Linked DNA regions of Homo sapiens: region 2 is linked to region 1. The links come from fine-mapping of genetic effects on gene expression. A gene starts in region 1. The other region holds a variant in brackets. All regions are shown on one strand. Distances are between the middles of the regions.

Evidence for each region. PIP is the estimated chance that this variant, and not a neighbour inherited with it, causes the effect.
Region 2: its variant is the best candidate, but not a certain one, in a credible set for the expression of MIR4432HG in whole blood (TOPMed, PIP 0.89).

The regions. Positions count from the first base shown.
Region 1 is chr2:60,389,946-60,392,860 of GRCh38, forward strand. It overlaps MIR4432HG (MIR4432 host gene), which reads right to left and starts at 1,430. Exons shown (of 2, transcript NR_132992.1): 1 at 1,361-1,430.
Region 2 is chr2:60,396,560-60,399,474 of GRCh38, forward strand. LOC102724142 (a long non-coding RNA gene) reads right to left here. Exons shown (of 2, transcript XR_007086327.1): 2 at 1-257. Among named protein-coding and RNA genes, the nearest start is that of MIR4432HG, 6.6 kb to the left of the region's middle. The variant C/T (reference allele first, on the strand shown) is at 1,489.

The DNA of each region.
Region 1 (2,915 bases):
AGAAGATTTACTACAGGGTGGCCAGAGCTTTTCCCTGGAATGGCCCAAAGTTGCTTCTCTGTCCCCAGACAACTTGGGTTTGAGCTCTAGGGGACCATATATAATATTTTCTAGGTCCCTGTGAGTACACCCTTGATGTACTGGAGACGGGAGGTCAGATTTGATTTACATTCACAGGCAAAATTGAAGTTAGAACTCACCCCAACTCAGCGGAAAGGAGACTGCGGGACAGTGAGGACTCAAGGAGTAACTGTGAGGCAGCTTAAGTGAACTTCACTCAGGGCACAGTAGGTTTTCTTGTTCTAAGTAAATATCTTAACAGTTTCCAGTTTTACAAATTTAAAAACAGCTAAAAATATGCACACTTATATTTTCTAGTTTTTGCAGATGATGCTGAGGCAAGTTAAGAGGGAACATGCTAACCACCAAAACCATCCTCATTTTCATGACTAGGTGGACAGGGAGGAACCGAGGCTTGTACTGCCCTGTGTTGCATAGTAGATAGCTCCTCTCCTGAGGCAGGGCTGCTAATGACCCAGGCCCAGTTAGCCAGACCCTCCCTGGTATAGTCTGCTGATGTCATTGAAAAAGGACATGACTTCTTATCTCAGCTGCTGGCCTGTGAGCTGGGGCTTCCTGCCTCACGGAAGGTGAGAGAGGGAGAGGGAGACAGAACCCTGGCAACCTGGGACGGGCACAGTGGCTCACACCTGTAATCCCAGCACTTTGGGAAGCCAAGGTGGGTGGATCACCTGAGGTCAGGAGTTCAAGACCAGCCGGGCCAACATGGTGAAACCCCGTCTCTGCTAAAAATACAAAAATTAGCCGGGCATAGTGGCACACGCCTGTAATCCAGCTACTTGGGAGGCTGAGGCAGGAAAATCCCATGAACCCAGGAGGCAGAGGTTGCAGTGAGCCAAGATTGCACCACTGAACTGGGAAACAGAGCGAGACTCCGTCTCAAAAAAAAAAAAAACCCTGACAACCTGGTGCCAACCCCTGGATCCAGCTGTTCCTGTATCCCATATTCCTCTGCACTTCCCAGTTACATGAGCCAATTATTCCCTTTTTGTTTATTATTAGTTTGAGTGTCTGTCACTTGTAACTTAAATAAGCCTGCCTACAAATTCTAGCCAAGGCATTCATCTTCTGGCAAGCCTCTATAAAGAACCTGTAGGTGCTGCTTTTGAACACGAAACTCCCTGCTTCATTTGATCACTGACTACCAGAGAATGCAAACTCTTGGACAACATGAGCACAGCAAGTATTTTATCCTCAGTCCCTCCCCTTCCTCTGACTGTCAGCCTTCAAACCCAATGCCAATCCCATCCCCACTTCCCCCTGACTCCACCATCATTACCATTGTCTCCCTTCTTCGTCTTTGTCAAAGTACCTCACCAGTGAAAGAAAAGTGACCTCTGCTTCAAAAATGAATAACTGCCACGAATGCGGAGAGCCACAGCAAAGGAAACCACGCCTCCTTTGATAAATACCATGCAGCTGCTGCTTGGTGATGATGGTCTCGCCCTGGTGGAGCATTCTAGGGTCAGATGTTTACAGAGAAAAGGCAGGCAGGTGCCAGTGCTTGAACATCAGGCCAAATCCCAGGTTTCCCCAGCCGTCACTCATTCTCATGCACAAAGTAGAGGCCCTGCAATTGCTTCCTAAGACTCAGTTTCCTTATAGGTAAGCTGGAAAACATTTAGTATTAACAAGCACCAGAGCTATGTCAAAGGAGAATCATCCAAAACATTGCTGAGCCTTGACGAAGATGAACAGCACTCAGGGGAAGAATTCTAGGTGGATCTTTGGGTAATAGGAACCCTGAAAACAGCAATGATCCAGTAGGTGACATGTAGGGCGTGCCCCTCGCCTTCCTGGACTGGTGCTCAGCATTCCACTTGTATGATCTCATTTAATCCCCACAACACACCCATGCGGTGGGAAATAATTATCATCTCCACTTTACAGAGGAGGCTCCTGAGTCTTCAAGAGAATGTGAGACTTGTCCACAGTCACTCAGTAGTGCAGCCACAGTGACCTTGAAGTCAGGCCCGGTGTCTGGCCTTTGTGACCATGCCATCCCAGGGATGTAAAAGAACTCAACAGTTGCTCAGAATACCCCTTTTACCATCTCAACGACATGGGCAATCAAGGACTGCCTTGCTTCCTGCCGGGTTCCTGAGTGAATCAGTGGGCATGACTTTGAGAAACAGAAAGCTCTAAAAATCTTGGGTGTTATTACTGTCTAGGCAGTGCAGTCAGAGATGATGTTGATGGTGGTAGCCTGTTTTACTCATCTCACTCTCAGAGGATGCTAATCACATGGGTGGGAAATTTCATTAAACAACTGTCTCCTGGAGGCAGATGTTCATCCCAGAGCAGATTGGCATTCAGTCCCTTCCCCCCAGCTGGCCTGAAGAGCACTGGCAACGCAGGCCAGTGCTCCAGAGGTGCTGGGATGGAAGGTCCTGAGGTTAATCCTCTTCCAGCATTCACTATCCATGCACCCTCTAAGTTTCGCTTTCTCATCTGTGAATTTTCTCATCTGAGGAAGGGCTGCCGGCAGGAAGGGGCCAGTGATCCAAGCCCAGTTAGCCAAATCCTCCCGGTACAGTCTGCTGAAGTCATTGAAAAACCCCATGTCTTCTCATCTCAGCTGCTGGCCTGTGAGCCTGGGGCTGCCTGCCTCGTGGAAAGTGAGAGAGAGAGAGAGAGAGAGAGAGATAGAACTTTGGCAACCTGGGTTGGGCTAGGTTATAATAATACCTACTGTAGGTTATAATAATACCTGACTGTGAACTGGGAGCCATAATAATACCTACTATGGGTTTTCTAGGAGGTGAGAAGTTTGTCTTCTACTTTTTTTTGAAACTACAAAATACTTTAGACATCCAAAATGTAAGTATTAATAT
Region 2 (2,915 bases), 6.6 kb after region 1:
CCATAGAAGGTGACATGTTCAGTTTCCATGGATTCAAGCATAGTCACCTTTGGGGGGCATTCTGTCTACCACAATCCTCAAGGAAAAGGCTTTACACTCAATGACCGCTGTTGCTGTGGGACACAGGGTCAAGGTTACATATGATATCTGAGATGTCTTGAGGGAAAGGTGGGAATCTCACGACAAGGAGCAGTTGACAGTGACACCCTCACTTGCTGGTTTGCTTTTAGCACATAGTGACAGATGAAAACCTGTGCCTTCACAGTGGCCAAGAATCAGAAATGAGAGTCCAGTTAGTTCCCTTCTTCCATTCAGATTTATATGTCTCATATATCTTTCTCAGCTATAATCGCCCAAGTATTGAAAATCAGAGCCAGGCTTTTGACTCACTGTGCCACAAAGTATTATACCAAGATTTTTAAAAATAATCATGCCTATCCAATCCCATTGCTCTCACTAGAAATTTGATTAATAATAATATATTTTAATGAGAACAAAAAGGGTTTCAGATAGTTAATAGACAAAATCTTTTTTTTTTTGAGACAAAGTTTTGCTCTTGTTGCCCAGGATGGACTGCAATGGCACGATCTCGGCTCCCTGCAACCTCTGCCTCCTGGGTTCAAGCGATTCTCCTGCCTCAGCCTCCCGAGTACCTCGGATTACAGGTGTCCGCCACCATACCCAGCTAATTTTTTGTATATTTAGTAGAGATGAGGTTTCACCATGTTGACCAGGCTGGTCTTGAAATTCTGACCTCAGGTGATCCACCCACCTCGGCCTCCCAAAGTGCTGGGATTACAGGCATGAGCCACCGCGCCCAGCCCTATTTTTAAATATTTATTTCATCGGTATCAATTTTTAAATTTGTGTTTAGATATGTGTTTTTAAAAATACATATTTAATATGTATTTGTTTAATGTTAATACATTGTTTAATGTTAATGTATTTGTTTAATGTTAATATGTAAAAATACATATTTAATATGTATCTGTTTAAAAAAACAGAACATATTAGTTCAACAGTATGTGTACAAAAGTTATAATAAGTATATACGTGTTAGATGTGCATTCTCAAAAATGTTTTTATTAATGAAGTTGCTCAAGTAAGGTTCGGAAGATAAACCTTTGGGTCACAAGACAGACATCGTGCTGGGCTAAACACAAACCTTCTGGAGATATTTTAAAGCTTCCTCAAACTTCCTAAATATGCTGTGTTTCAAAATACTTGGTTCTTGGGTTGTGATCGATTTTTCAGGCAATTTAGAGAATCTCTTTTCCAAGTAGCCCCTTCCCTACACTCTTGTTTTAGCTGAAGAACGTTAAGAAAAGAAAATGGAGTTCTCTTTCGAGGTACTGTTTACTGAGGTGCAAAATGAGAGACGGGGTCTGGGCCTCCTGGTTTCTTGTGTTTGGGTCCAGCAGGAGTTGAGAGCCTCTGAATGGCCATGCTGGGGGGTTTCCTGTGCAAGACTTTACACATTTGAGGTTC[C/T]ATCAATCCGGCACCTATGGGACAGGAAGCCAGCAAGGTTTGTGGAGCCAGATAGCCAAATAAAAAAGAATCACCTTTTACTTTCCTGAAGTTAATTAATGCTGAGTGGAGCAGGCCAAGTACAAAAACTGATCAGGCTTTCTCTGAGCAAAGACTCCACATTTTACCCATAAAGCCAAATAAGCCTGACCCTGGGACCCCCACAAATGCAGGTCAGGCCTAGCTGGGAGGTACAGAGGAACTAACACTTTTCCCTTCACACTCCTTCTGGTGTTTCCCTTCTGGGTCTTATTTTTATTCATTTTTCCAGTTTATAAAACACACTCACCGATGGGCCCTTGGGGCACATGTGGAAAAGCTTAAAAGACACAAGTACAAAAACAGACTGACTTAGAGTCAAGAACCAAAACCCTAAGAATTCTCCTCTATCTCGCCCCCACCCCCTACTCCTGCCCAAGTTACATTATGGGCCTTCCCCTCCCATATTTCCTAAAAGGTCCATAAAGTTGGGCTTTTTCCAAAGGAAAGGGAGGTAGGTATCAGAACTATTCTCTTAATATCTTGATCCAAGGTTTTCTCGGAGCCTGGTGCTGTAGCCTAAGGTGGTTTGGCAAAGGGGTTGCTTGAACAAAGAGGTCAGGCCTCAGCAACGGGCAGTGAGGCCTCTGCTCCCAGGCCCTGGACAGCCTCCAGAACATCCGGGTCACTCCTAAGAATCCAGGATCCAGACCCAGTACACACATATCAGGAGCTCAGATTTCCCACATCAGGAAGGGAAATAAAGACTACTTTCTTAGGCCGGGCGCAGCATCTCACACCTGTAATCCCAGCACTTTGGGAGGCCGAGGTGAGTGGATCATGAGGTCAGGGGTTCAAAACTAGCCTGGCCAAGATGGTGAAATCCAGTCTCTACTAAAAACACAAAAATTAGCTGGGCATAGTGGCGGGCACCTGCAATCCCAGCTACTCGGGAGGCTGAGGCAGAGAATTGCTTGAACCCAGGAGGTAGAGGTTGCAGCAAGTCTCCATCGTAAATAAATAAAGTCTATATTCTTTGAGGGCCCAAACAAGATGCTTTCAAAGGCCCAATCTTCCCTCCCTTTTAAAAAGTGTGCTCTCGCCAGGCGCAGTGGCTCACGCCTGTAATCCCAGCACTTTGGGAGGCTGAGGTGGGCGGATCACCTGAGGTCGGGAGTTCAAGACCAGCCTGACTAACATGGAGAAATCTCATCTCTACTAAAAATACAAAATTAGCCGGGTGTGGTGGTGCATGCCTGTAATCCCAGCTACTCGGGAGGCTGAGGCAGGAGAATCGCTTGAACCCGGGAGGCAGAGGTTGCAGTGAGCCGAGATTGTGCCATTGCACTCCAGTCTGGGCAACAAGAGCCAAACTCCGTCTCAAAAAAAAACAAAAACAAAAACAAAAA